4 linked regions of the Homo sapiens genome follow. The protein of the gene in region 4 interacts with the protein of the main gene of each other region in a pairwise test. Each region holds a gene or a part of one and is shown on either strand. Other genes may lie near its edges.

Region 1 (7,125 bases), on a different chromosome or scaffold from region 4:
ATGTCCTAAAAGGGCTGGCGTGTCAGGCTGAGGAGCTCTGTATTAGGCCATTCTTACATTACTATAAATACCTGAGGCTCAGTAACTTATAAAGAAAAGAGGTTTAATGGGTTCACAGTTCCACAGGCTGTATAGGAAGCATGATGCCGACATCTGCTCGGCTTCTGGGGAGGCCTCAGGAGCATTTTTTTTTTTAATGGAGTCTCTCTCTGTCACCCAGGCTGAGGTGCAGTGGCATGATCTTGGCTCACTGCAACCTCCACCTCCTGGGTTCAAGCAATTCTCTCACCTGAGCCTCCAGAGTAGCTGGGATTACGGGTGGGCAGCATCATGCTCAGCTAATTTTTTTTTTTATTTTTGTAAAGACTGAGTCTCATTATGTTGCCCAGGCTGGTCTCCAACTTCTGGGCTGACATGAACTTCCCACCTTGGCCCTCCTCCCACCTTTTTTTTTTTTTTTTTTGAGACAGAGTCTCGCTCTGTCGCCCAGGCTGGAGCGCAACGGCACGATCTTGGCTCACTGCAACCTCTGCTTCCCGAGTTCAAGTGATTCTCCTGCCTTAGCCTCCTGAGTAGCTGGGATTACAGGTGCTCGCCACCATGCCTGGCTAAAATATTTTTGTATTTTTAGTGGAGATGGGGTTTCACCATGTTGGCCAGGCTGGTCTCAAACTCCTGACCTCAGGTGATCCACCTGCCTCGGCCTCCCAAAGCGCTGGGATTATAAGCGTGAGCCACTGTGCCCAGCACCCCACCCCCCGCCCCTGTTTTTTTGAGACAGAGTTTGGCTGTGTCACCCAGGCTGGAGTGCAGTGTGATCTCAGCTCACTGCAACCTCCGCCTCCGAGGTTCAAGCAATTCTCCCACTTCAGCCTCCCAAGTAGCTGGGACTATAGGTGTGTGCCACCACACCTAGCTGATTTTTGTATTTTTAGTAGAGATGAGGTTTCACCATGTTGCCCTGGCTGGTCTCACACTCCTGACCTCTAGTGATCTGCCCACCTCGGCCTCCCAAAGTGCTGGGATTACAGGTGTGAACCACCGCACCAGCCCCGCCTCAGCCTCTTAACTTGTATTTATTAAACGCTTACTATATGGTATTGCTCTAGGAACTTTTCTAGTATGAACTCACTTAGTTCTCATGATAACCAATAAGCCAGGTACTATTATCATACCCCCATTATACAGAAGGAGAAACTGAGGCACAGAGCATCTCAGAACTCTGCCCAAGCCTACCCAGCTAGTAAGTGGCAGAGCTGCTTCTGGTCTGACAGACATTGCTTTTCACCACCTCGCCTTGCCCCACTGGCTAGCAGTGCCTTCCCCTGTCCTGGGCTACCCTTCCTCACCCCTCCCCTGCACCTGGGTAACCTCAGCCTCTCCTTCATGCGCCCGCTGACCTGTGAACTTGCACTGCTGTAGGAAGCCCTGGAGGAAGGGCGAGTCCGAGAAGAGCATCTGCTGGAGCCGCTCAGCGCCCACATGGAAGACAGAGTTGATGAGGAGGCGGCCGGAGAGGTCGGGAAGCAGGGCAGCCAAGTCCGCTGGAGACAGAGGAGAGCCGAGGATGATGACTGCCTCCACTCCTCCCTCCCTCTGCGGGCCACGCCTCCCCACTCCCAGGCCTTGTAGTGTGCATGGGCGGACCCCACCTCCTGGAGCACAGCTGGACACTGACACAGAGCCCTCCTGTGACTCAGGGATGGGTTGAGGGTGGGCACGTGCTCCAGGCCCAGACAGACAGCCACTGTGCTTGGTTCTGGGTGGAGAACACACCTAGGCCCTGAGATTTAAATCACAGGGATTCATTACCAGATAGCACGCCTCCTGGGAGCATCAACCTAGGGGCACAGCAATTGGTTCAGGGGTGAGTGGGTGGCCCAGGTCTATCCGATCAACCACAGTGATTGGTTCAGGGGCAGGCACACTCTCAAGTTGGCCCAATCAGAGCCAACCCTAGGGTGTCCGCTGTAGACACTAGGAAAAATAGGCTGCTCTCTCTCATTGGGCTGGTCTGGGGCAGGGCTGAGGCCATCTCTGCCCCATAAGAGACAAGAATAGAGGCTAGCTGAAAATTAGTGGAGAGAGAAAATGAATACAATAATGATAATAGAAATACTAATAGTCAATGCTTACTAACTGGCCCAAGTGCTTTAAATGTATGAAATCACTTAATTCTCTCCCTTTGTTCGTTTTAGAGACAGGGTCTCGCTCTGTTGCTCAGGCCGAAGTGCAGTGGTGCAATCATAGCTCACTGCAGCCTCCAACTCCTGGGCTCAAGCGATCCTCCTGCCTCAGCCTCCCCAGTAGCTGAGACTACATAGGGTGCATGACCCCATGCCTGGCTAATTTTTAAATTTTTTGTAAAGACAGGGGTCTCACTATGTTGCCCAGGCTTGTCTCAAACTCTTGGCCTCATGTGATCCTCTTGCCTTGGTCTGCCAAGTAGCTGGTACTATAGGTGTGCACCACCACACCTAGTTTTTTCTTTTTTTTCTTTTTTGTACAAAACGGGGTCTTGCTTTGCTGCCCAGGCTGTTCTCCAACTCTTGGCCTCTAGCAATCCTTCCTACCTTGGCCTCCCAAAGTGCTGGGATTACAGGTGTGAGCCATCACACCCAGCCTCATTTATAGTCTCTTAACAACAATCCTATGAAGTGGGTATTATCATTGTTAACCCCATTTTCAGAGGAGGAAAGCAAGCTCAGAGAAGTTACATAATTTGCCCACGTGACATGGTCAGGAAGTGGTGTGACCAGGATGTGAACCGCGGCAAGCTGCCTTCAGTCTGTGCTTGTGTTCACCCTGCCATGCTGCCTTCAAAACAGAGTAAAGACAGAGATTTCTAGCAACAGCGCCTGAACGCCATCCCGCCTGCCCCTGGATTCTCAGTGCTGCGGGCGAATCCATCCCCTCTTGCTTAAGACTGAGCGAGGCTTGCAAGTACCGGAGGCGAATGAATTGGGCCCGCCTGCCTCACCTTCCTCCCCAGTGGATGAAGAGGAGTTACTTGTGTCTGTCAATAGCTCCTCACTGGGCAGCAGATCCAAGGGGCCCAGGGTGGTGGGCCCGTCAGGCTGGGTGGGCTCTGTGCTCGGGGGTTCAGCCACCGGGGTCACTGTCTGGCTGGAGGAGGCGTCTGGCTGGCTGTCTACCTGCTCCTCCTTGTCCTCCTCTGCCTGTGGAGAAAGGCCCGATGCAGCCTTGGCCACCTCCATCCCAGCCCCAGGGCTCCCAAGTCCACACTGGCCACAAGGATTCCAGAGCCTGTGCAGACCCGGGGTGGTGTGTGCACCGAGGGCTCACGGCTGAGCTGCGAGCAGCCTGGGGCCACCCAGATGAGGGCCCCTCTCAGCCCCTGCCAGGCTTGTCTCAGATGCCTGAGCCATAAGCTTTCTTACCTGTCCTGTCCGTCTGTCTGTCTGCTGCTTCATCTATCCACCCATCTCCCATCCCTTCTGTCTCTCATCCTTTCTGTCTGTCCCCTCTCTTCCCTGTCTCTCTTTCCCTGTCACATGTCCGTCTTCCCCTCCCTGTCCTGTTCCTCCATCCAGGCCTCCCCTGTCCCCCTATCCATTCCCCTCCAAATCTGTCAGGCTGTTCTTCTCCCACTGCACCCCCAGCCCTCCTCTCTCTTCCTATCAGTATCCCACCCCTCTTCCAACCCACCGCTCACCCCATGGTCTGCGTCGCTGCTGGCTCGGGAAAGGTTGGGCGTGACATGGCCACGGCGCGAACCCACTGGGCTTGGCTCCTGGCTGCGGTCAGCTGCCCCCGAGGAGGTGATGTCGCTCAGGGCGATCACATCTCCCACTTCCTTGGGGGTCCTGTGGGAAAGGGGAGGAAGCGGGACTGCTGTGTCCTTGAGACCCCATACACCCTCCTGAATCCTCCAGACGTCATACAACCATCTCAGGCCCCCCAGCACTCCAGGAACTCTGCACGCCGACCGTCCTGTTCTCCCCCGAACCCTTCAACCTCCTTTGACCTCCAACTCACCCCAGACCGTTCAGCTGCAAGGGGGAGACATAGTCCTCATCCTCACTGGTGAGGCCCAGCTCTGAGCCGTAGCACTGATGCACCAGGTGCCAGAGCTCGCGGGGACTCAGCGTCTGGGGAGGCGGGACCTGGGGTTGGCCTCCATCTCACCCCAGCCAGAGCCCGGCCCGCCAGATTCCCCACCAGCCCTCGGCCTCCGCAGTTCCCCTGGCTTCCACAAGGAGGCAGCCACGATCTCCCGCACCAGACCTGGCCTCAGCAAGCGGGGAATCCCCTGCTACAGCCCCTCCAGGGCCTGCGCCCAGGACTCAAACTTCCTGCTTCCCAAGTCCCCACAATACTCTGGCCAGAGAATGTTCCCATTTTTTTTATATCTTTTTTTGTTTGTTTTTTGGAGATGGAGTCTGGCTCTGTCGCTCAGGCTGGAGTGCAGTGGTGTGATCTCAGCTCACTGCAACCTCTCCCTCCTGGGTTCAAGCGATTCTCCTACCTCAGCTTCCCAAGGAGCTGGGATTACAGGTGCGTGCTACCACGCCCAGCTAATTTTTGCAATTTTAGTAGAGACGGGGTTTCACCATGTTGGCCAGGCTGGTCTCGAACTCCTGACCTCGTGGGCACCACGATCCGCCCGTCTTCGTCTACCAAAGTGCTGGGATTACAGGCATGAGCCACCGTGCCCAGCCATGAATGTTCCCATCTTTACAGAGCATACGGAGTCCCAGGAAGGGGAAGTCATGTAGGGAAAGTCATGTGTTCAAGGTCACCAAGTGACTTGGTCAAGCCCTGCCAGACTCCAGGGCTGAGTCTCCCATGCCTATGCCATCGTGGCCCCCCGAATCTTTTCCCAGGTGTCCTCGGGAGCCTTGAGCTTTCAGCCACCCATGGCCAGAGTGGCTGAATGACAGTGATGACAGTTAACAGTAAGTGATGATAGCAGCAGACATTTGCCACCTGGTCAACTAGGTGCATTCTTCTAACCACTTTACAGATGTACTAACTCACTGTATCTTCAAAACCATCTGGAAAGTAGGTGCTAACCTCATCATCCTTTTAAGACAATGGTGCTGAGAAGTGCAAGGTGACATGCTGGGGTCCAGCCAGGAAGTAGCAGTGCTGAGATGTGACCCCAGGGGAGCTGGTCTACAGCCGGGGGGCAGAGGGGGTGGCGAGGGAGCTAACCGCTGGGCTACTCTGCTCATAAGAGCTGACATGACTGAGTACTTATTCTGGGCAAAATTCTGGGTGCTGTGAAGTGGGGATGGCCCCCATTTGACAGATGGGGTTCAATCACTTGCCCCAGGGGATGGGGCTGGAATCCCGGGGCTCTGCCCTGTCCTCCTTAGGGCCTGACTGTGCGCTGTCCCTCTCTCAGGATGCTGAATGGGACCCTCAGCACTCCTGCCTGCTCCAGGGACATCGGAGCCTCTGAGAAGGCAGCGCGTGAGTGCCGCTCAGCCGGAGGATGGGGCTGGGGCTCTCTGAGGTGCTGTGGACCAGCCATAGCCGGCATCCTGTGATGACCTCCCAGCCTCTATCCACACTCCCCCGCTGCCAGTGGAACCTGGATGTCCTTCAGGGTGAAAATCATTCCCAGCCCCAGGGAAGAATTACGACGGTTTACACCAATTCATGTCCCTTTGCCAGAGACTCAGCTTCGGGGTCAGGTGGGGCCCAGGGAGGAGCTGCAGGGGCACTGGGCCTGGTGCCCATGGAGAAGAGCCAGGGCTGCCTCCAGCTCCGCAAGTTCTGGGGTCCCTGGCTCCATGGTCCCCCTGGAAACCCCCCATCCCCACCCGGGCCTCACCCAGGCCCACCTTTTCAAGCAGTGCATTCTGCCAGAGGCGGAAGATGAGGAGGAAGCAGCGGTCACGGGCCCCAAAGGAAGTGAAGAAATGCTGTCAGGGAGAGAGAGAGAGAGAGGTGTGAGCAGGTTGGGGAGCGACCAGGACAGAGGTGGGGAAGCGCCACCCTCATCTGCGCTGACGCCACATCTTTGGCCCCATGAATCCACTAATTCACCCCTGCATTAGTTCCACAAAACGTCTGTCCTGCGCCCGGCCCTGCCCTGGACAATTCCAGAATCACTGGGATGGGGAGACGACCCCTGGCCCTGTCCTTGGAGCTCCCAGTCCAAGGAGGGGACAGATGCATCTCTAGACAGGGTCAGCCCAGAGGGGCTGGGATGTGATGGGGGGAGCCCAGGGAACTTGCCCAGCCTCCTTTGCCACTAAGAATGGTCAGTTGATCCTTTTTTTTTTTTTTTTTTTGAGACAGGGTCTGGCTTTGTCACCCAGGCTGGAGTGCAGTGGCATGATCACGGCTCACTGCAGCCTCAACCTCCTGGGCTCAAGCCATCCTCCTGTCTCAGCCTCCTGAGTGAGTAGCTGGGACTACAGGTGCGTGCCACCACACCTGGTTAATTTTTTGCTTTTTAAGAGACAGGGTCTCACTATGTTGCCCAGGCTAGCCTCAACCTCCTGGGCTCAAGCAATCTTCCTGCCTCAGCCTCCCCAAAATGCTAGGGTTACAGGCATGAGCCACTACACCTGGCCAGATCCACTTTTAACCAACAAAACACAAAGAGAAGTCTGCTGGGAAGTGTCCCCCACACCTGTCCCCCTTCTTGTTGGACCGCTGGTGAGAAAGCCATCTTGCAACCAACGGACATGAGGCCACAATGACAGGGACAGGACACAACATCGGGGAGACTTACGAAGGGAGGGGCGGCTGAGGTGCCACATACATGGAAGAGTTTTACTATTTCTGCTGTTCCTGAGCAGCTGTGTGAGGTAACAGGTTGCAGGGAAAGAGAGGAGAGGCTGGTGCGGGGATCAGGTCAGGGGTGATGGGCGCCTGGGCCGGGAGAACAGAGAGAAGGGGACAGCTCGGAGAGAACTCAGGGTGCAGAACAAATGGGGCTTTGCATGTTTGGGGGAGGCGGCCTGCTGAGCGGGGGACCGCGTGGTCCCGTCACCGGGTCCTCCGTCACCTTCTCGCTCTCCGTGCAGATCTGGATGGCGTTGGGGATCAGCTTGGCCGTCTTTTCCTTCTTCAGACATGTCACTTCCTTCAGCTGGATGGAGATCTGAGGACAGCAGGAGGGTCAATAGGAGCGGGGTGGGGCCT
Region 2 (8,088 bases), on a different chromosome or scaffold from region 4:
GTGAGTTAAGATACTTTATTTGAATCTAAATAATCTCTAACTTCGCTTGAAGTACCAATATTCTAATTCTTGGAATATAGCACTCTCATTTTAAATGATTATAAAAATGTATGCTTGTGTCATATTTTCTTTTACAATAATTCTTGGTCAGAGCTATGACATATTGATGCTATTGCTTGGGTAGAAATTCTGCTGTGTGCTTATGAAATGGATAATGAAGAGAGAGCACTCACCTCTAACTCTCAGTATAGAGATTCCTGGCCTTTACTCTGAGTGGTCATCCACTGGCTTTGCAAATGCATGTCTTTCTCTTTCCCAAAACCTACCTCCAGACAGCCTTCTCAAACTGACCACCCAACCTCCAGCTCAATCCTTCCCTCCTCTGCCCCAGCAGCCATGCTGGAGTCCTGCTCTGCATAGCTGTCTGTTTTCTCTGGGTTACTTTGCTTCAGTGCCCTGCACCTGCAGTGGCAGATGGGTCCTAGGAGCTTCCTGAGGACAGGTGCCCAGTCTCTAGGGCCCAGGGTGATCTACACACAGTGGATGCTTGCTTGGTACAAGAAGTGCCCTAGGCTGACTAATCTAGGGACGCAGAACAAACCACTATAACTGAATCAATGCAGTACTTCCTGGAACAGAAGCTAAGCTGAAAACAATGGCTGTAACCTCACAAGAAGCTCCACCCTTCCTTCTGCTCTAAGTGAAAATCTAGGTTGAGGAGGCAAAAACCTGCCTCTTCTCCCTCATTTCAAACCCACATCCCATCAATTCTGTCGTGTGAACATGGTGGGCATAGCCCCACCCAGAGCTGGACCTAGGACCTGCCTGGTGAGCGATCTTGCCCTCCACTTTCTGGTGCCAAGTAGGAGAAAGGGCTTTCCACTTCATGTGGCTCTGTAAACATGGTGTGTTACACTGCAGTCTCACTTGCTTTCTCTCATTTCTAACATGCCTGGAGGTACACACTTCTTTGAATTTGAATATACAGCACCCTTGGTCTAGAATGTCTCCATAGCAAACCCATACTTCTGTGAAAGTGAACCCACCAGTCACCTCTCTAGGCAGTTTTTGGCACACTCCTAACTCCTACAGTTTGTGCACGTTCTCCATCTATTATAGAAAAGAGCACATTGCACTGTATTTGTATATTGCTGTGACTGTCATCCATAATAAACTCTACAACTCCTTTCAGATGATAATCTTTTCTGTTATCCTGTATCTCCAGCACCAAGTGCCATATCTGGCCATGGGGTAGGAGTGGGAAAGGAGAACCAGAGTCCGAGGGCCTCTGTGCAGTCAGAGGTCAATCAGAGGGCACAAAAAACCAAGGACCAACAGACTTTGTCCTTTCCAGTTTGTGCCTCTTGTCAGTGAACAAAGGTGAGGTCACTTAGGTGGTGGTAACCATAGCTGTGAAGGCATGAACTTGGAATCATTCCTCATGAATATAAAGGTACCCAATCCTTTCATTTAAAAATTAAGTGTTCTTAACTGGCCCACACAGGAAACATCACAGGAAATAATGTTTCAGTTCAGTCTTTGCTCCCATTCAACCACAATTTCAAAATAGTACAGATTCTCCTCAAGATTGAGAAAGCAAAACCTCTTTGTTTGTCCAGCAGCTGGGAGTTTGCTTTTTCTCAGCTTTCTTCCAAAGCACACGCATAGTATGATATCTCTTATCTCCCATGGGAGTTCCTTAAGAGTAGGACTGTTTGCTAGACAAATATTCTCCTTCTACCTTTTCATCTCCCTCCCCCACAATTCCCAAAGCACAGTGCCTGGCCTCAGGAGGCACCTACCACTTGATTATTAAGTGAATTTATTTAAAAGACTGCTTTTTATTTTTTAATACAAGGCTCAATAAACTCTGAGGTGTTTTGGGAATCCAGAGCCCTCTCCCCGTCCCCACCCCTCTTGGAAATCTAGAGCCCTCTGCCCTGTTCCCAATCCTCATACTTAGATGGGTGGGTGTAATCAAAGAGAACTTTCTCCTTTCTGCTCCAGGGCATAATCAAGTGAAATTCTCACAGGTCTTGGAAGAAGAAAGCTCTTACATAGAGTTTCCGATGGTGGTCACAGAGAGTCAGGACCGAAGCTCTGCTAACACTTTGCTGAGTCCATGCAACCTCAGTCATTAGTTACAGCACATGATTGGAAATTACTGCAGTATCAAGTTTTGGGGATTGCATTTTATACGTGCATTTCATGTGACATTTATCAGTGGTCATGTTTTGTACACCAAGGATAATTTGGGGAAATGCTGAGGATCCCAATGTGCTTCCTGCTCCTTAAAAGCCAACAATCTATGCATCCTTTAGAGATGTCTAGCTTTCACCTTTTAAAATACAGTTACTGAGCACATCCTGGTGTTTTGATTTTTAGCCACCTTTCTATTTAGTGGCTTTGAAGAACCACAGTGGGAGTCACTAAATTTACTTTTGAAATTTTCTCAAATGAAAAAGAACTGTGTCTTCTAGCTGTCTTTCTAAAGACAGCTCTGGCTGTGGGTTCTTTCCTCACTTTAAAATCACAAGACCAATTTTCTGAAGACCAGAGCACATAGGAAATCTCCCCAATGTCATCTCGCATAGAAAGCTCCAGGCATCAGGAATTACTACACAGAGTAATTCAAGCTCTGAAGCAATTAAGGCATGTGAATGCCTCGACTCAGAGATTTAGATAATGGGAACCTGATTAAGTAAAAGTATTTCTGGCCTGATTGCCTTTGGGGATGTTACTAGGATCTTGCTAATCTGTTTTACTTTGTGCACTAAATATTTGTGAAAGAGAAGTTGCCGGAGATTTTATGGTTACTAGAGAGGTATATGGAGACCCCTAAGAATACGCCCTACCCCACATTAGACAGCAAGCCAAGTTAAAACGTCATCAACCTTACCTTTTCCAGGCACCGTTCCTCAGTCCTTTCGGCAGAATTTAGTGATTATCCTTGAGGTGGCCGAGACAAGGCTGGTAACACAGATATCCGGGGCTATTTGTGTAAAAGGAGAAGTGAAGGGTGAAAAAATATGATCATGCTGTGACGACAGGAAGCCCAGATGAGAAGAAGGAGGAAGTGAGGCTGAGTCCGCCCTCTTTAGTCTCAGAGATTTAGTACTTTCCCAGTGGCTTTTTAGAAGCTTCCTCTCACAGCCCACCCTAAACTAGTTTTGTGAAACAAAAGAAAACTTCAAAACCAAGTTGGTTCAGGCACAGATCTGTGAGCAGTGGTGGATTCTAGGGTAATTTGGCAATGATTTTTGCTTAGAAAAGGACAGTGCTTCTCAATCAAGGTGGCATCTCAGAATTAACTGTGTATTTGTTCAAAAAGAAGTATGCCTGGCCCCACCACCAGTTTCCCATTCAGGTAGACAGACTGGAGGGGAACACAGGAACCAATATTTCTAAACATTTTCTAGGCCCGAGACTTTGGAATGTCTTTCTGAAGATTCTCTGCCCCCTCCTCATACTCCCTCTGTCTGGCTTCAGCCAGTCTCTAGACTTGAATTGGACACCATTTGCAGACTTCTCTGTCTCGAGAGCAAGACTGTCTTAAGGTGAGTCCCCAAGGCATAATCCCAGGGGCACTGGTAGAAATGATTTGGTTAGTACAGGAAACACCACATTTGGAGCCAAAGATCTGAGTTTCAGTTCCAGCTTTATCTCTTTTAGCTGTGAGATCTTGAGCAAGTCTCAATCTGTCAGCCTCAGTTTATTAATGGTAACACCTAATAATAATCCTACTGGTTACTGTTACATCCTTATTTATATACAAGAAAACAGGCGCTCAAAGAGGTTAGAAAATTTGCCCAAGCTCATACAACTAAGACATGTCAGAGGTAGGATTAAAATTCAAGGTCACAGAGAAGGCCTTTTGAGAAACACTGTGATCAATATATTTTGAAAAATGTGTTTCTGGTTTCACTATGCTGCATCACTGGAATTTTCTTAGATTGGGTCAAAGGAGTATGTGACAACCCAAATGTATCACTAGCTAACTATGAAACTTGGAAGCAATCACTGGGCCCCAATGTTTTCATCTTATAAATGAACAGATAGATGCACTCTGCGGTGCTGACTTGCGGGCATGCCTCTGGGAAAGCTAGCTGTCTCCCGCTTCCTTCACCCTGAGACATTCAGATCCAGAGTAATCTCCAGCCAGGGCTGTCTTGTGGGGAAAACTGAATTAAATGAAGGTAAAAAGGTCTTTACTGCAGAACTTGTCAGTCCTTAATATTCTCTAAGCAGGGGAAATAATATATAGATTTCTCCAAACTTATCTGAGCATGGAACTGTGTGGTGTGTGTGTGTGTGTGTGTGTGTGTGTGTGTGTAGTTTCTCTTGGGGAACAATTTTTCAGTGTAACTACACTTTAGGGAATGCTATTAAAAAGTCTCTGCACCTCGGCTGGAATCACTGACCCTCACTCAGAGCTGCTGCCATGCTTACAGGTCCCTGAAGTGGTGGGGCTGAGGAGAGGCTTCTGGCTGAACTCATATTTTCCTAATTATCTCACCCATTCTGATGGCTCTAATTACTATCTGTCTGTTCCAAAGATTCACAAATCTATATAGATGCCATGATCTCTCCTTTGAGCTCCACTCTCTCCCAGGCACCTCAAATCCAATATCCAACTTCAGTTTGATTAACTTGGCATCCCCACACTCAAGCCTGCTCCTCCCACCATGTCCACCATCCAGGAAAGGCCTGACTGGCCTTTCAGCCACGTTCATGAGAAACCAGGTGTCCTCTTAAGCTACTCTCTCTCCCACACCACCACCTATTATCAGCCACCAAGTCCTGTCAGTTATGCTTTTGCCTAAATATTTCTCAAACCAGACCACCTCTCTCCAACCCCATAGAAATTACATTAGTCTTTATCTTTTACCTGTGTTACAGGATCCCAGTGTCCTTCAAGACCACCTTGGATGTTTCTTCAGTCTGTCCTCAGGAAGAAGGGAGGAGAGCCTTCTAAAATGCAAATTTAATCACATGACTCCCCAGCTTAAAACTCTCAGCCGGCTATTTCTTCCCCGGCCCCACCCCCAAGATCTCCTCACACTGGGTAACACTGGATATGGAATTCCTTTTAGTTGCTTAAACAAATCAATCTAGTTCTGTCTCACGAGCTCTCTCTAGAATATCCTCTCACCTGTTCACTTAATTCCTTACTCATCCCCCATCATAGCACCAGAAAGCCCTCCAGGCAGGAACAGTTACTCCTGCTCTCTGCTCCCATTGCCCACAGGCATTCCTCCACCCTCTGTCATTCCTTGTTTTTCATTGTTTTCCCCACTAGACTGAAAGCTCTGTAGGTTCTGTGTTACTCTGTGTATGTTGGGTGATCTTGCTCATGACTGTATTTTTAGTGCCTGGTATTGGGTCTGGCACATAAGAGGTGTTCTATAAATATTTGAATAGTTTCAGGTAATGTGAGGCCTGCAAGTTAGGGGAACCAGAAATTTGGGACAGGCAGAGAGAGTAAGGAGAAGAAAGAGATAGGTAGACTGAACATCTGCAGAGAGAGAAGTGATAAATAAGGGGGAATCTTAGGAATATCGGGAAGACTATCTCAAGACAAATTGTTCACAGCAAAATAGGTGACCATTTTAATGCAGAACATTTTTCCTTGAATGTGCCTCTTTCCATCATTTCACTGGGAAGGGTTGTTCCAAGTGCCGGACAACTAGAGGTGGCTGTTTCCTGGGTTTAGGGGTTTGGTAGAGAACAACGTGCCCACTTATACCCATACCTATAAAATTTTATTGAGAATTAATTCTGTTTCTGACCATCAGATATTTAGAATTCATTTGGAGGGACAAGAACAAAAACAAATAGAGAATAAGACAATATCAGGAAACCCCATGTTATTGAATAACCCAAAAGAACGCTCAAAAACTTTGAAAAAACTAAATTAGAAAAGGCATTTAGCAGAAGCTCAGACTCATGGCTTGGTCTTCTCAATACGGGGTATATTGATCACCATCATAGATGATAATAGAATCTGAGAGTTTAGGAAACTTGAACTTGGCCAGACGAATAGCGGGAATACAAATTATGAGTACTCTACTACTGTGCAGTCGTATTTGCCAAAATACATTCTGAATAGACAAATACTCACATAGACATTTTGTATTTAGCCCCCATTTAGGCCTTTTTCAAAAGCCTTCTAAGTGAGTAGTTCTGTTTTATTATTGGAAGATAATCACTGTTGAAATATGAGAATACAGATAGAACTTCCAAGTTTATTTCAGAGTTATTTAAGTATATAAGGATATTAGAGTTTAAGAGGCATAGATTTTGTGAGAATTATAAGATTGGAAACTTCAAATGGGAGATTAAAGTTAACTAGTAGTACATTGGATTTTGCTTATGGGCTCTAAGAGTAAAGTTTTGAAGAAAATGCTGTAGAACATCATTCTTAACTTTCATTTTAGGTTCAAACGTACATATGCAGGCTTATTATATAGGTAAATTGCATGTGACAGGGTTTTGGTGTACAGATTATTTCATCACCCAGGGGGTAAGTATAGTGACCAACAGGTAGTTTTTTAATCCTCTCCCTCCTTCCCCGCTCCACCCTCAAGTAGGCCCTAGTGTCTGTTTTTCCCTTCTTTGCGTCCATGTGTACTCAGTGTTGAGTTCCCACTTATAAGTGAGAATATGCAATATTTGGTTTTCTCTTCCTGCATTAAATTGCTTAGGATAAGGCCCTCCACCTGCATCCATGTTGCTGCAAAGAACATCATCTCATTCTTTCTTATGACTGCATAGTATTCCATGGTGTATATGTACCACATTTTCTTTATCCAGTCTATCATTGATGGGCATTTAGATTGATTCCGTGTCTTTGTTATTGTAAAGAGTGCTATGATGAACATACACATGCGTGTGTCTTTATGATAGAACAATTTGTATTCCTTTAGATATGTACCCAGTAATGGGATTGCTGGGTCAAAAGGCAGTTCTGTTTTATGTTCTTTGAGAAATTTCCAAACTGTTTTCCACACTGGCTAATCTAATTTACATTCCCACCAACAGCGTATAAGCATTCTCTTTACTCTGAAACCTCGCCAACACCTGTTATTTTTTGGCTTTTTAATAATAGGCATTTTGACTGGTGTGAGATGGTATCTCATTGTGGTTTTGATTTGCATTTTTCTAATAATTAGCGATGCTGAGTATTTTTTCATATGCCTGTTGGCTACATGTGTGACTTCCTTTGACAAATGTCTATTCATGTCCTTTGCTCACTTTTTAATGGAGTTGTTTGGTTTTTGCTTGTTAATTAGTTTAACCTTCTTATAGATTTGGATATTAGACCTTTGTCAGATACATAGTTTGCAGATATTTCCTCCCATGCTCCAGGCTGTCTATTTACTCTGTTGATAGTTTCCCTTTCTGTTCAGAAGCTCTTTGGTTTAATTAGGCCTTATTTATCAATTCTTGTTTTTGTCACAATTGCTTTTGGCATCTTCATCATCAAGTCTTTACCAGGGCCTTTGTCCAGAATGGTATTTCCTAGGTTATTTCCCAGGGTTTTTAAAGTTTTAGGTTTCAGATTTAAAATTTAATCCATCTTGAGTTGATTTTGGTATATGGTATAAGGAAGGGGTCCAGTTTCAATCTTCTGCATATGGATAGCCAGTTAGCCCAGTACCATTTATTGAGTATGGAGTCCTTTCCATATTGCTTGTTTTTGTCAGCTTTGTTGAAGATCAGATGGTTGTAGGTGTGCAGCATTATTTCTGGGCTCTCTATTCTGTTCCATTGGTCTATGCATCTGTTTCTGTATCAGTACCATGCTGTTTTGGTTATGATAGCCTTGTAGTATAGTTCAAAGTCAGGTAACATGATGCTTCCAGCTTTGTTCTTTTTGCTTAGGATTATCTTGGCTATTTGTTTTTAGCTCCATATGAATTTTAAAATAGTTTTTTTCTAGTCCTGTGAAGAATAGTGTTGGTAGTTTGATAGGATTAGCATAGTATCTGCAAATTGCTTTGGGCAGTATGGGCATTTTAACAATATTGACTCTTCCAATTTATGAGCATGGAATGTTTCCCATTTGTTTCTGTCATCTCTAATTTC
Region 3 (7,089 bases), on a different chromosome or scaffold from region 4:
ACTTCAAAAATGTTCACTCCCTATGACCTGGCACTTCCATGCACGCAAATCCTTCTTTAAGAAATCTCCCGGCCAGGTGCAGTGGCTCATGCCTGTAATCCCAGCACTTTGGGAGGCTGAGGCAGGCGGATCACTTGAGGTCAGGAGTTCAAGACCTGGCCAACATGGTGAAATCCCGTCTCTACTAAAAATTCGAAAATTAGCGGAGCGTGGCGGCAGATGCCTGCAGTCCCAGCTACTTGGGAGGTTGAGGCAGGAGAATGGCTTGAGTCAGGGAGGTGGAGGTTGCAGTGAGCTGAGATTGCATCACTCAACTCCAACCTGGGCGACAGAGCAAGACTCTGTCTCCAAGAAAAAAAAAAAAGAAAAAGGAAAAGAAATCTCCCAATGCAGATAAACCCCCAGGCAAATTTCACCCACACTTATCTACAATAGCAAAAATGGAAGCAAATTAAATATCGAGTGATAGACTATTGGTTAAATAAATTGAGACACACTGATAGGATGGAATATGCAGCTGATGAACATTTTATTTATAAAAAGGTCTGTAAAACACAGAGAAGTGCTGGAATAAAGTGATGGAACGATAAGGTGGAAAAGGCAGGATACAAAGTTGTATATACAAGATAATTGCTCTGTAAAAAGAACACCGGCAAATTATGTGAAGAAGAAAAGAGTGGAAGGAAGTACAACAAAACGAAATAATGATAGTCTCTGGTGAGACTATGGGTGACATTTTTTTCTTCCTTTTCTTTTTCTCCTCCATCTTTCCAAGTTTTGCATACTGAACAACTCTTAATTTCACTTTTTAAAGGAAATAGGGCCAGACACAGTGGCTCATGCCTGTAATCCCGGCAATTTGGGAGACTGAAGCAGGAGGCTCATTTGAGGTCAGGAGTTCAAGACCAGCCTGGCCAACATGGTGAAACCCCATCTCTACTAAAAGTACAAAAATTAGCCAGGTGTGGTGGTGCGTGCCTGTAATCCCAGCTACTCGGGAGGCTGAGGCAGAAGAATCACTTGAACCCAGGAGGCGGAGTTTGCAGATCGTGCCACTGCACTCCAGCCTGGGCAGCAGCACGAGATTCTGTCTTAAAAAACAATAATAATGGAAAAAGAAAAAAAATAGTAGTTGTGCTACTTTACCCCCACCCCCGACCCCTTCTCCAGGGGGCTGGACTCGGAGTCACCTTCAGGTATCCGCCCTGTTCCTACTCTCCTCTGTGTTAGACACCTACGTGCACTCTGGTTTTCTACTTTTCTCTCTAGCCACCAGAACCCATAGGCAAGTAACCCTTTCCAGACAAGGAAGGAGCCAAGGTTTTCTTCATCATTTTTCCAAAGGCAAGAAGGCATGGCCAGGGAGGGCAAATGGAAAGGCAACCACTCTCTGCCGGTCCTGGGCTTATCCCTGCAATGTGCACCTGACCTGACCAAGGCCTGGACTTAGGCAGGCCTCAGGGGAGTCCCCAGCTGGATCTTGGTGTCGCAGACAGAGCAGATCTTATTGGGGCAGGTGGGAGACGTCACAGCCCAAATGCAGACTCTAAGCTGGAGGGGTCTGAGCGTTCATCAGGCCCACTGGCCCTCAAACTCAAGTGCGACAGTCACTGGGCATTGTTAGAAATTCAGAGTCCTGCACCAAGCCCCAGAGATGGTTTTGGTGGGTCTTGGTGGGGCCCAGGAATCACGTTTTTCACAGGCTTCCTGAAGGGCTGGGATGCAGGTGGTTCAAAGAGAAGCCAGAATCCCAGTCTCACCCCAGCATGCTCCTCTTCATCACCAGCTGATGCAGGAGACCGTGGGACTAAGTCTGAGGACGCCAGGGAGGGAAGACAAGGTGGGGTCTGGAGTGGGAGGAAGGCAGGGTCCGACACTGGGCATGAGGCCCAGGAGTTCCTGGCAGATTGAAACTCAGACCAGATCCACTGAGCCTTGTCTGGCCCTGCTGAGGGTCAGCAGCCTGGTACTCTGCCCAGGGATGTGAACCTATCAGGGATGTCCCAGTCTCCAGCCGGAAGAGCAAGGCCACCGCTCTGGGCTCCAGGGCTGACAAACGCTTCTAGGTCAGGCTGGAACATGCAAGAGGAGAGCCTGGGGAGGGTGGGGAGAGCCCTGGAGTCCGGGCAGCTGGACTCTGAGGCTGAGGTGGAAAGCTTTCGGGAATCGGTGCTGATCCAGCCAGCCATACTGCTTCACTGCTGGCCTGGCCAGGAGGGCCTCCTGCCCTACGCTGAGACAAACTTCGAGAAGCCCAGCTCCTCCTCAGATGTGTGGAGGGGAGGCATCGAGATCACGTCCCCCTCAGGGGCCTGGGAAGGGGCTTCCTTTTCCTCCGCAGTCTGTAAAGACAACAGTGGGGTTTGGAGAGCAGAACCCAGATGAAGGGGTGGGAGGTGTGAGGGGTGGTCCCCAGGTAGCTGCTGCGTCCACCCAGCCTTTTCCACAAGTTCCAGCCCTCCGTCCATCTGCAGAGGCACAGGACCTAACAACTCCCCAGAACTCCCAGGCTTTGATTCATGGCCTCTCATGACCCCAATCCATCCCTCCCCCGGGGTGCCCTCAAGGCCCCAGGCTGGGTTCTGGCGCAGTTGTGGCCTTGAGGGCAGTGCAGCCCACAGCACTGTCAGCTGTGACTCCCAACAAGCTATTCAGGAATTTTCTGGACCGGAAAAAAAGAGGATGTGAGGTCAAAAGCTCTGGCTTCCCAGGTGAAATGGGCTAGGCCTATGGCTGTGAATGGGGAAGGTGGGTAGATGCGGGGGTGTGGGGTTTGGGGAGCAGATGCTGAGGAAAAGGCCTCCTTCCACTTCCTCTAATTGTCAGAGTGGAGGCAGGCAAGGTGGCTCCTCAGCCCCTCCCTTCCCAGGGCCCTTCTGTCCATACTTGGCTTAGATACTGGATCTCTGTGTAGAGGCTGGGAGAGGGCTCGGGGATGGTGAGAGACCCCATGGGCCCTGCAAGGTTGATCACAGCGTCCTCTGGGTCCCGGCCATTCCCCAGTGGCTGTAACAGAGACTTGGTCAGAACAGCCTGTTCTTGGCAGCAGGGATGGTCTGCTAGCCCAGCCAAGCCCAAGCAAGATGAGGGAAACGTGGGAGGGGTGGGCAAGGCAGGGAGGTGCCGGGAGGGGAGAATACTAAGCTCCTGGATGCCTCTGCCACTTCCTTCCTTCCTGTCTTGTCCAAGGAAGGACAAGCTGTCTCACCTCTCTGAAGCTCAGTTTCCTCAGCTGTAAAACTAGGTAAGAATTTGTCCTTTGGGATTATAATATTCATAATAGCATCCTACCACTCAACCAATGAGAAATTCTGGAATGACTTATTTGTTTTCATTATTTTCTATCCTTTAAAGCAGAAAGATCATGCAGGCTGCAGGTTCTTTGTAACAGGCCAAGAGACAGCAAAGTTGGACACGCCAAAGATTCGTCGAATAACAAGGGACACATGAAACATTCTTGAGATGATGGGTCTGAGCAATCCATTATCCATCAGATGAGGAGACCACGGCCCAGGGAAGACAGCAGGTAGTCCAGGGTCAGTGGGGAAGCCCATATTCTGACCCGGGCCTGGCTGCTCCCATGGGTCCTCAGATCAGGAACGCCAGGCCCGTCCATCTCAGGCCTTGCCCTAGCAGGTGGGCGGAGCAGAGGCTGGAGCCGGCCAAGCTCCCCAGCCAAGACTCCCAAGGCCACAGGCTGCCCTGGGGTTTCCTGGACAGTGAATCCCATGGCCAAATGGGCACTGATGCCAGAGAAAGAAGCTCCCATTTTCTGGGCATGTATAGGGTATATCATCTCACTCTTTCCTATTTACAACTATGTGAGCTATGGCAACAGGGGCTCAGAGAGGTGATGCAACCTGCTTGACATCACACAGCTGGCACATGGCTGAGCTGGGACTCATACTGGAGACTGTCTGACTGCAGACCCAAGCTCTTTCCCTATACCCTGCTGCCATCCGGGCAGGGTGTGTGACACATTCCTCTTGGGCTCGGTGTCCATGGTCTACTAACCGGGGCCCAGCTTCTCTCAATACCTAGCTGCTGTGGATGGGGGCAGAGGCAGATGTTTGAGCCAAATCTTGTTAGAAATGCTAAGATGAAGCCTGGGTGTGGTGGCTCTTGCCTGTAATCCCAACACTTTGGGAGGCTGAGGCTAGAGGACCACTTGAGCCCAGCAATTTGAGACCAACCTGGGCAACATAGTGAGACCCCATTTCTCTAAAACCTTAAATTAAAAAGATAAAATATATACCAAAGAAAAGAAACACAGGGATGACATCTTCAGCCTTCTGGGGACAAGGTAGGAATTAGAGCAGAATTCCTTGGGGGAAGTGTGGGTGGTGGATGAGGGCACTGGGAGGGGTAAGGCAATTCCCAAATGCTGCCACTTAGGGCCCTTGTCCCTCCTAGCCCTGCCCATGGTGAGGACAGAGGGGGCCTTGGTGCAGGGCAGACCTGGGGCTACACCAGAGGACTCCTGACATCAGACCCATGAGTCCATATTTACAGCTTTGCAATCTGGTTTTAACCCAGCCACTGCTGACCCTGGACCACCAGCAGCTGCAGAAGTGTCACCTGTTCCAGGGTGACTGAGTTTGAGGAAAGAGCCTCGCAGTGCAGAGGCCAAACGGCACACCTAGGCAGCAGCCAGGCCCACTATCGCAAGTCTGGTGTGATTTGCAACCTCTCCCCTGCCCCTCTGCCTCCACTGTGGACGATCGGCCCTGTTCCAGCAAGCATGGAGGCATTTTCTGGGTTGCTAAATATGCAAGATATATATCAGAGCTCTGCTTCTAGGTACTAGTAATAAACCTAATAAAGAAAGAGGGAAGTCTTGGGAAGCCAGGGCTGAGTTCTGATCGGAGCTTAGCAGGCTATTCATTTCCAGGAGTGAGGGTCTGCAGCTGTCCCAGGGTCTTTCTCCTGAGTCTGGGGGAGGAGTCTTGGGCTGCGAACTTGGCTCCATTCCTCAAACCCCTTGTACTTCAGTGCAGCGGGGTGGAGGACGCAGAGGGCTCTGCAGCCAGCCCCATAGACCTGTCAGCCTCCCCAGTTCTGCCTCTTTCAGGCTGGGTCACTGGGCAATTTCCCTTTTCTCTCTGAGCCTGTATTTCTTCATCTGCAAAATGAAGGGGATACTAAACTCTACCTCGTATGGGAATGATGAGGATTCGTTGGCATATATAAAGCCCCTGACACGTAGTAGGTGTTCAATAAAAGATGAGGCAGACGAATGGATGGATGGCAGTCCTTCTAGCAAGATCTCTTAGGGAAAGAAAATGCTGGTCTGACCCCTAAGACTTCCCTCAGGGTTTTCACACCCCTGTGAGGCCTCTCAAAGTATAAGTAATGCATCCCCCTCCCTCTTTGACCCGAATGTGGACAAAGAAAGCCCCAAACCCCTTCAATTCCATCTCCAGACTCTGCTAAATCCTATGGAGAAGCCACAAGGGAAATAATCAAGAAAAAGCAGAAGCACCCACCTGATCGTGTTTACAGGGTTCTTGCCTCTGACCCTCTTGGGAGGCCCTGTTCCATCTTTCCCTCAACAAGGGGCCGCCCCCTAGAGCCCCTCTGCCTGCTGGCCCTGTGCCCCTTCCTGTCCCCTCCCTCTTCAGCAGAGCCAGGGTCAGGAGCCTCAGGCAGGAAAAAGCCCAAAGCAGCCCTTCTCAGGGTTGCCAGAAGGCAGTAGCATGGGAGCTGTGGCTGGTTCCGGCGCTCTCAGCCTCCTTGGACCCCAGCCCCTCTTCTGGAGCTAGGTGGGGTGAGACCCAGGCCCTAGCCCGCAGAGCCAGGAGGCCGGGCTTGGAGGTGGCCAGTGGCACCCACCGTCCATCCATCCGTGTGTCTCCATGACTTTTCCCTTACTCTCCTCTGCTACCTTTGGCCCTGTTGAGCTTCCTGAGACAACAACAGCTGCTTCCTAAGCCACAGCCCAAAGTCCCATTTCCACCCCAGACCCTCCTTGGGGTGACCAGGCCTGAGTCTTTTGTCCTCACTGGCGCCAGGAAAGAAGGCAATGGTAGCTCCGCTTTCCTGCCCTTGTGTTTAAAGGAATGGAGTGGAGGCATCTCAGTAAACAGCAGAGGGAGGAGGGGCCAGGAGGGGCTTCTGTTGCCTGAAGTGCGATGCTGCAGCCCCCTCCGTTGGAGTGCTGGCCTCGGAGGGCACAGTCTCTTCTTGCAGCAGTAGCCTTGGGGCAGGTTCCCAGCTCCAGACAATGGGCACAGGGACCCTTATTCTCTTGCCCCTGGTCCCCAGAGCACCACCCTCAGCCTGGGTCCCAGAGCAGCCACACCACCTTGGTCTCAGAGCCAAGGCAGGCTCAGAGAAAACATCAGGGAGTTCTGGAAAGAGAAGAGCAGGAGTCAAGAAATCTGGGTCCTGTTCTCTGTTTGGGCCACCACCTGCTGTGTGACCATGGGCAAGACCTTTACCCTCTCTGGGCCTCAGTCTCATCTTTTGTAAAAGCACACTAGAGTTTGTAGCACTGCCAGAGTCCCTGGACCCCACCCCTGGAGGGTTCAGCTGGGTCTGGGGCCCTGGAGAGTGCATCTCTAACAGCTCCCTGACCCCTGGGCGTTCTGAAAGGCGATTTGCTTCAAACTGAGAGAAAAGTCAGGCTAGAGATCTCAAAGGCTTCATCTGGATCCAGCTCTGATGTTCTGTGATTCTAAAAGGGGGGATGGAAAGAAGGCGCCTGGAGAAGATGCTCACATGGCTCCTGGAGCCCACCCTGCCTGGCACCTGGCGGGAAATCAGGTTCCCACCTGTGAGTCCCCCATGGGCACTGTGTCCGGCTCACACCCTGAAGGGCTGATCTTGGGGCTCACACACATTCCTCCAAGGTGGGGAGCAAGCGCTGCCTCTAGGTCAGGCAAGGAGGACCAGGTAGGAAGTCACAGAGGCAAAGCCCAGGAATCTTGACTTCCAGCCCCAAGGGGATCTGAGCTTGGGCTTCCATATGCCTCTGTCCTTACCAAGCGTGAGAGGCAGAACTTCTCGTTCCTCTGTGTCTCCGTGGCCTGTTGAGCTGAAAGAGATGTAGAAGGAGGAGCCCCTTGAAGCCAGGAGTAGCCGGGAGTG
Region 4 (7,125 bases):
TTTTGATGGACAGTAACAGGGTGCAGCTGTGGGGTCGGAGGAAGTCTGGCCAGTTGGCAGAAACAAAGGGGACACAGCACCGTGCCTCCAGGGTGCCAATAATGTTTTCAAAATAATTGCCTCTTTGCACTGCCACCTGGAGGCTGGGAGCCACCTGGAGTCTCCTTGATGAAAGGAAATGCTTGAACCCTCACATACTCCCTTGCTCTGGACAAATATTTGGCCAGCGGGGTCCTGAGGCCAGGCTGGAACAGATTGCTCTGTGCCCAGGAGTGCCTTAACTCCCTGGTGTGGGTGCCCTTCTTACTCTGTTTGCTCTCTGTACATTTAGTAGGTGGAGCAGGGCAGGAACCAGATTTGACTCATGGTTTACAACAAATCTCAGCTTTGCACACAGCGGGGCTGGAGGCTCACCCTCCCTGGAGCCCCACCTTCTGCTACTCCTTGACCCAAGCCCGGCTGCCCAGCCTTCAGCCTCCAAAGCCCTCACAGCTGCTTCAGCATCCTCTGAGCTTGGCATGTGCCCTTTCTGCCCTCTGGAGAGCCCCTCCCAGTCCTTTGGCCTGGTTAACCAGTTAGGTCCACCTCTCTCTCCAAGGCTCGACTGACCCTATGCACCTGTCCAGGCTGCTCTGCCCACTCGGGGCTGGTTGTCCACCTGCATGTTAAGTGGCTGCTTATGCATCTGTTTCCACTGAGCTGTCAGCCTCCTGCATGAACGACAACTTATTCCCAGGTATTGGTAGTGCTGGGCTCAGTGCCAGAAGCTTCATACTCACATCTGTAGTTTTAGCCAGTTCACACCAGCCCCCAGTGTGGGGAGACTGCTGTGAGTTGCCATTTGCAGAGAGGAAGCTGGGGCCAAGAGGCAGAATCACTTGCTGCAGCGTCCCACAGTGACTTCGGAGGACAGCTCCTCTGAGAACGGGAGTCCCCTGCCAAGGGGAGGGAGCTGGCAGGGCGCCTCTGCATTAGAATTCTCCCAGAGAAGACCGCGGCAAAGGCCTGTGCTCCAAAGGCAAGGGGCATGACTCAGCTGAGGCAACAGCTGTTTCTGTTCCACAGACACCTAGCCGGGAATGAAATCTCTCCTGACTCGGCTGTGCCTTTCCCGTATCCTCCTCTTCTTCTCAGGATTGCTCTTCACCCTCCTCCGCCCTGTCCCCCAGATGGCCCCTGTGACCCTGGGCTCTGCAGTCCTCCCTGGGCATCTCCTGGGCAGTGCTGAGCGGAAGGTCGACCGCCCCACTGCCCATCCCCTGGGAGCAAACCCCTGGCTTTCATGATGTCATCTGTGCTGAGACATCTGTGACTACCTTCACCTTCATATGTTTCTGGGACAGGCAAGGACTGGTGTAAGAGCGTCCCTAGGAACGTGGTTCCTCAGAGGCTTCTGGGTTGGAGGCTCCAGGGACATGAGACACACTCACCCAGGGCCCCCTGAATGGTGGGGTCCAAAAGGGGCACTGTGCAGCTGCAACGGTAGAGATATTCTGTGTAAGTCCCCTTGAGAGAGAATTTCTCACCTGAAGACATTATACTAAATGAAAGAAGTGAGCCACAAAAGTCCATATGTTGAATGATTCCATTCATATGAAAGTTCAAAATATGGAAGTTTGTAGAGATAGAAAGTAGATTAGTGGTTGCTTGGAATGGGGGCAGGGAAGCCACAGCTCATGGGATTTCTTTCCAAGGTGATGACAATGTTCCAAGATTGACTGTGGTGATGGACGCACGTATCTGCGAATATTCTGAAAACCAGGGAATCATACCCTTTCAATGGGGGAACTGCATGGGCTGTGAATTATAGCTCATAAAGCTGTTTAAGAAAAGAAAAAGATAATGTCTCCCCACCATCTCACTATGAAACATACTGCTATAAATATACCATGCAAAGGAAAAAAGTCGGCCTCATTTTTTAAAGGACTCACTTGCAAGGTGATGCCCCCAGAGGCTGGGTGGGGTCCTGAGATCTGTCAGGAGCTGGGGTTAAACCCATAGTGGGCTTTGTTCTATGGACAACTGTGGACAAGGTTCCCACTATAGACTGCAGGAACCTGCGAGCCAGTGTGGGGAGCATGGAATTTCCCAGGGAGCTGGAAAATAGTCTTCATCAGGTTGGTAAAAGCACACACTGGAACAGGGCAGAGTCTGGCCTGACCTCAAGGCCCTCCGCGCAGCTGCCGGAAGCTCAGAGCCCAGGCTGTGGCTGCAGCCAGCAAGGTGCACACAGGAGGCTGTGACCAGCTCTCCACACACTGACTTCCCCTCACTTTTCCTGCCATTGATTCCTCACACCAGTCACATCTTAAGCCACGTGGGAAGAATGGAGTGGAGTGAGATGACTCTGCAGACAGGAGCTGAGGACTACCTTCTCAGATTTGCCATTTCCAGCTGCCATCTGTGCATTAATTTACCTCATATGTATTTTACAGTTAATTTTTCCCAAAATAATGACATTGCAACCATAAGCATAGAAACAATGTCACTATCCGGTTTACCTTTGCCTATCCACGCTATTAGAGAACTCCAGACACCTGGCTCCACCCTGAGCCCTTCTTGCCTTCATCAGAAAAACCAAAGAGAGTAAAGGAGGAGGAAAATCGTTTCCTCACTGTGAAATTCAGTGTTCCTCGATAGCATGTGTATAGGTCACCCGTAAGCGCCTCTGGCCCACGGGGTCCCACTGGGATTCCATAACGGAGTCTCTTCCCAACCATGTGCAACCCAAGCTGCTCCTTTGGGGTTTGGTTCATAAGTGGCTCTAGTTCAGCCACACCCAGGTACCAGGAGACCAAGGCCCGTTAGCTGACTTGGACACCGATGCATGGCTGGATGGGTCTTCTCCTGGTCCCCACCAGTGAGGCAGCTGTGAGCAAGGCAGACCTCAAGCCCACCATCACCTGGTCAGGGAAAGCGCCATGTTATCCCTAACCCAATATACCTGTGTTTGTGCTGAGTGCTACAGAGAAGACGTGCAGGACTCCCTGAGACTGTGTGAACGAGGAAGCAACTTAAATTGGTCCTCCTGGGAGGGTCACGTAGCCACCAGGCAAAAGGCACTTAGGAGAGGGGTTCCCAGGCCAGGGCCTCCCTCTTCCCACTGGATGTGCCCGCTGGATCCTCCTCCTATTTCTCCATGCCACCCTCGCATGCCTCCTGAATCCAAGCCCTGCCTGTACCAATGTGCTCCTGTCCCTCCGTCAGTGCCCGTTATGGAAAAGGCCACATAATCTGTTGAATCTTAAACTCAACTGTGGATGAAATCTACACACACATCTTATTCCATGGTGGTCTGGGCATTTTTATTTAATTGATTTTGCTCCCATTTTTGTAAGATGCACAGTGCATCCCACCGGCCCTGCCACGTGCCTTCAGGCAACCTAAGATCCATCAGCAGAGGACGCTTTCTGGTCAGAGATGCCCACATCTGATTCCTTAGGGACAACTTGGTTTTAATAAATCCAAAGTCTTCATTGCACTGATTTTTCTACCCAAATGCAATTCTCTCCTGATTGCTTCTCAGTCAAGCAGCTCAGAGAACACCTGTGAAGACAGCGGTATCTCTCACCCAGCAGGTGGGCAGCAGGTGCAGGGAGGTGGGGGGGTCAAGGTGCTATGTGAATTCAAACCACAGGGGACATAGGCCTGGGAGGGCAGCCCCATCCTCAGCCCCCCAGACACTTCTGTAGTACCTTGGAGACTTTTGGCTGCAAAGGAATCTCCACATAGGCCTGGAGTGCTTCGAGCCCAGTCCTCATCCAAGTGGGGAACATGTGGATGAGGCTGAGCTGATTCTTACTGGGTGGGGGTGGCGCTGGGGGAGATGAGGAGAAGGGAAAGAGAAGTGCAGAAAGTCCCCGCTGGGGTTTGTACACGCCTGTCCACAGTGAGGAACGGAGTTTGTACGTACCCATCCGCGGTGGGGAGCGGGTTTGTATGTGTCCATCCACGGCGAGGAGCGGGGCTGGGCTACTGAGGGGTGCTACTGGCCCCCATGTCTGCTCCTCTTTGACTGTATGGGGCTCACTGACCCTGGCGACATCAACTGGGGTGTATTCTGGATAACCACGGGACTGTACTTTCCTCATGCCCATCCTCAGCCATCCAAAGAGACAAGGCTGTCCTTGGTTACTCCATTCCAACTCCAAATCTGATCATCAGAACACTTCCTGGACTTGGGAATATAAACAGTTGAATCCAGAAAAAGAAATAATGAGCAAGAGAAAGAAAGAGAGAGAAAGAGAAAGGGAGAGAGAGAGAGAAAGAGAAAGGGAGAGAGAGAGAGAAAAGAAAGAGAGAGAGAGAAAGAGAGAGAAAGAAAGAGAGAAAGAGAAAGAAAGAAAGAGAAAAAAGAAAGAAAGAAAGAAGAAAGAAAGAAAGAAAAAGAAGGAAGGAAGGAGAGGGAGGGAGGGAAGAAGAAATGAAGGAAAGAGAGAGAGAGAAAGAAAGGAAGGGCAGGGCAGGGGACTACTGACAGTGTGGTTAATTTGTTTTGCCAAATAAAGACCAAAAAGATCTGCTGGTCACTACCATTGCATAAAGGAAAGGACATTTTAATATCAAAGCAAGTAGGAGGGCTAGAATATCAGAAGAAATAGCAGCTCTTCTCATGACAATACCAAATGGCATAAATCCTTTCTCAGAATGATGAATTACTTAACTTCCACCTACCTCAGTTTCCTCATCTGGCAAACAGGTCAGCATTGCTCAGAGGGTTACTGTGAGAATCACTGAGTTATTATTTGTAAAGTGCTTAGGATAGTGCCTGGAATGTAGGTCTGATATAAGTGTTTGTTAAATAAAAAAATTAAACCCATATTTAAAAAGTTACTCAGGCCAGGTGCAGTGGCTCACGCCTGTAATCCCAACCCTTTGGGAGGCTGAGGAGGGCAGATCACCTGAGGTCAGGAGTTCAAGACCAGCCTGGCCAACATGGTGAAACCCCGTCTCTACCAAAAATAGAAAAATTAGCTGGGCATGGTGGCATGCACCTGTAATCCCAGCTACTCAGGAAGCTGAGGCATGAGAATCACTTGAACCCAGGAGGCAGAGGTTGCAGTGAGCCACACGCCACTGTACTCACGCCTGGGTGACAGAGCAAGACTCTGTCTCAAGAAAAAAAAGTTTTAAAAAGTTAATCAGGGCAAGCGTGCCGGGGATTGGGATTGAGATCCAGCACAGGGCCCTGGGGGGACTAAAGATGCATTTTTGCAGAGGAAAATGCCTGCCCTGTTCTCTTTGCCTGCTTCCTGTGTTTTTGCACTCCAGTCACCCCATGTGACCGCTGGTCGGGGGCCCTTCCTGGGCTGGGGCTCTCCTCTAGGCCAAAACTCACCCCTCCTCCTCCCCCGCAGATCTTCGGGGGCCTGGTGTGGATCCTGGTGGCCTCCTCCCTGGTGCCCTGGCCCCTGGTCCAGGGCTGGGTGATGTTCGTGTCTGTGTTCTGCTTCGTGGCCACCACCACCTTGATCATCCTGTACATAATTGGAGCCCACGGTGGAGAGACTTCCTGGGTCACCTTGGTGAGTCCAGCCCAGGGTGGCTGCTGGTTGTAGGGGGGCGCAGGAAGTACTGGTCCCTGGCCCAGTAGGATGGGCTTTTCCAGTGCCAGGTGAGACTTCTCCGTAGATGTCACCCCACCATGTTCCAAGGCTGAGCCTGCCCAGGGCTCCTGGCAGCAGAATCAGGAGAGGCAGGGGCAGAGGCAAGGTCGCCGCTGCCAACCCTCACTGGACCTGTTCTGTGTTCTCCTGCATGACTGCCTTTCCATGGATAACCAGCTGCCCAGCCCCCACACCACCTGTACCCGCCAGGTGCCTGCCTGCCCCTCCCATCACCTGCAAGGGCTGTTTTCACCTCAAGGCAGCAGGGCCCCAGAGGCCGACCAAGGTGTTGGGCTCCAGAAATTGGCCCTGGCTCTGAGGGTCAGGCCATGCTTACTGTCCAGCTCCTCAGCCACTGCCTTCCAAGCAGGGCTGCCAGAGAGCACTGGGAAACAGAAGCGGCCTTTGGTCATTATTCTGTATAAATTCTGCTTTGAGACCCATGAAAAGGTAACTTTTACATGTAGGACACTTGCCTGTTACCTGCTGTAGGGGTGGTGGGGCCATTTGGCCAAGGCTGTCACTCTCAAAAGCTCTGCTACTTAGACTTTTGAAATCACTTCCAAATCACAACTACACAAAACCCTGTTTTAGTACCTTTTTGCTTTCATTTATTACTTTATTTTGAGTTGGGGGTCTCATTCTGTCACCCAGGCTGGAGTGCAGTGGCGCAATCTCATCTCACTGCAGCCTCAACCTCCCAGGCTCAAGTGATCGTCCTGCCACAGCCTCCTGAGTAGCTGGGACTACAGGCATGTGCCACCACACCCAGCTAAGATGTATTGTTTTGTGTAGAAATGGGGATCTAACTATGTTTCCCAGGCTGGTCTCAAGTCCTGGCCTCAAGAGATCCTCCTGCACCAATCTCCCAAAGCTCTAGGATTACAGTCATGAGCCACCACGCCCAGCCCTTTTTTGCTTTTAAATATACCAGGGGCCAAAAATAAGCAATGAAACAAAACAAAACAAAACAAAACAAAACGAAAGAAACAGCATGGTCCTCCCTCACCCTGCACTGGTCAGCGAGGCCACACCCAACCTGGACTGTGGCCATGCACGACACTTCTCAGATCCAGGACCAGCTTTTCCCTGGGACACCCCAAGCTGCTGGCCCTTCCTCCACCTCTCCCTTGACCCTTCCTCAGGGGAGACCAGTGTCCCATCCCCAGCAAAGTGCTCACTCTGGCCCCACAGCAGTGAAGTGAGACTCAGCACAGCAGGGCAGGCATGGGACCTCCGTGACAAGGTTGGGAGGGGTGGGATTCAAAGGAAGTGGGGGGAGAGGCAAGGGGCGGGGGTGGAGGGGACCTCAGCTCTGCATCTGGGCCCCGTCTCTCTCTCCCCATCCCTCTGACACCCCGTCTGCCCCATAGGACGCAGCCTACCACTGCACCGCTGCCCTCTTTTACCTCAGCGCCTCAGTCCTGGAGGCCCTGGCCACCATCACGATGCAAGACGGCTTCACCTACAGGCACTACCATGAAAACATTGCTGCCGTGGTGAGTCCGGGCACCTGGGG

The links.
Region 1: the proteins of MAL (region 4) and GRAMD1A interact in binary tests that used the Homo sapiens proteins (3 or more experiments, as listed by UniProt).
Region 2: the proteins of MAL (region 4) and CD53 interact in binary tests that used the Homo sapiens proteins (3 or more experiments, as listed by UniProt).
Region 3: the proteins of MAL (region 4) and CD300LG interact in binary tests that used the Homo sapiens proteins (3 or more experiments, as listed by UniProt).

The regions. Positions count from the first base shown.
Region 1 is NC_000019.10:35,010,243-35,017,367, reverse strand, and holds part of GRAMD1A (protein Aster-A), read right to left. Parts: intron 7,085-7,125; coding exon 6,989-7,084; intron 5,895-6,988; coding exon 5,814-5,894; intron 4,113-5,813; coding exon 4,000-4,112; intron 3,828-3,999; coding exon 3,677-3,827; intron 3,180-3,676; coding exon 2,981-3,179; intron 1,545-2,980; coding exon 1,401-1,544; intron 1-1,400. UniProt on the Homo sapiens protein: Cholesterol transporter that mediates non-vesicular transport of cholesterol from the plasma membrane (PM) to the endoplasmic reticulum (ER).
Region 2 is NC_000001.11:110,868,060-110,876,147, reverse strand, and holds the start of CD53 (leukocyte surface antigen CD53), read right to left. Parts: upstream 3,001-8,088; 5' UTR 2,900-3,000; intron 1,192-2,899; exon of another isoform or gene 1-1,191. UniProt on the Homo sapiens protein: Structural component of specialized membrane microdomains known as tetraspanin-enriched microdomains (TERMs), which act as platforms for receptor clustering and signaling.
Region 3 is NC_000017.11:43,857,051-43,864,139, reverse strand, and holds the end of CD300LG (CMRF35-like molecule 9 isoform 1 precursor), read right to left. Parts: intron 7,037-7,089; coding exon 6,984-7,036; intron 6,677-6,983; coding exon of another isoform or gene 6,605-6,676; exon of another isoform or gene 6,380-6,604; intron 6,351-6,379; coding exon of another isoform or gene 6,312-6,350; exon of another isoform or gene 5,906-6,311; intron 3,007-5,905; coding exon of another isoform or gene 2,887-3,006; intron 2,343-2,886; coding exon 2,229-2,342; 3' UTR 501-2,228; downstream 1-500. UniProt on the Homo sapiens protein: Receptor which may mediate L-selectin-dependent lymphocyte rollings. Binds SELL in a calcium dependent manner. Binds lymphocyte.
Region 4 is NC_000002.12:95,042,602-95,049,726, forward strand, and holds part of MAL (myelin and lymphocyte protein), read left to right. Parts: intron 1-3,283; exon of another isoform or gene 3,284-3,546; intron 3,547-3,913; exon of another isoform or gene 3,914-4,177; intron 4,178-4,674; exon of another isoform or gene 4,675-5,357; coding exon 5,358-5,525; intron 5,526-6,979; coding exon 6,980-7,105; intron 7,106-7,125. UniProt on the Homo sapiens protein: May be involved in vesicular trafficking from the Golgi apparatus to the cell membrane. Plays a role in the maintenance of the myelin sheath, and in axon-glia and glia-glia interactions.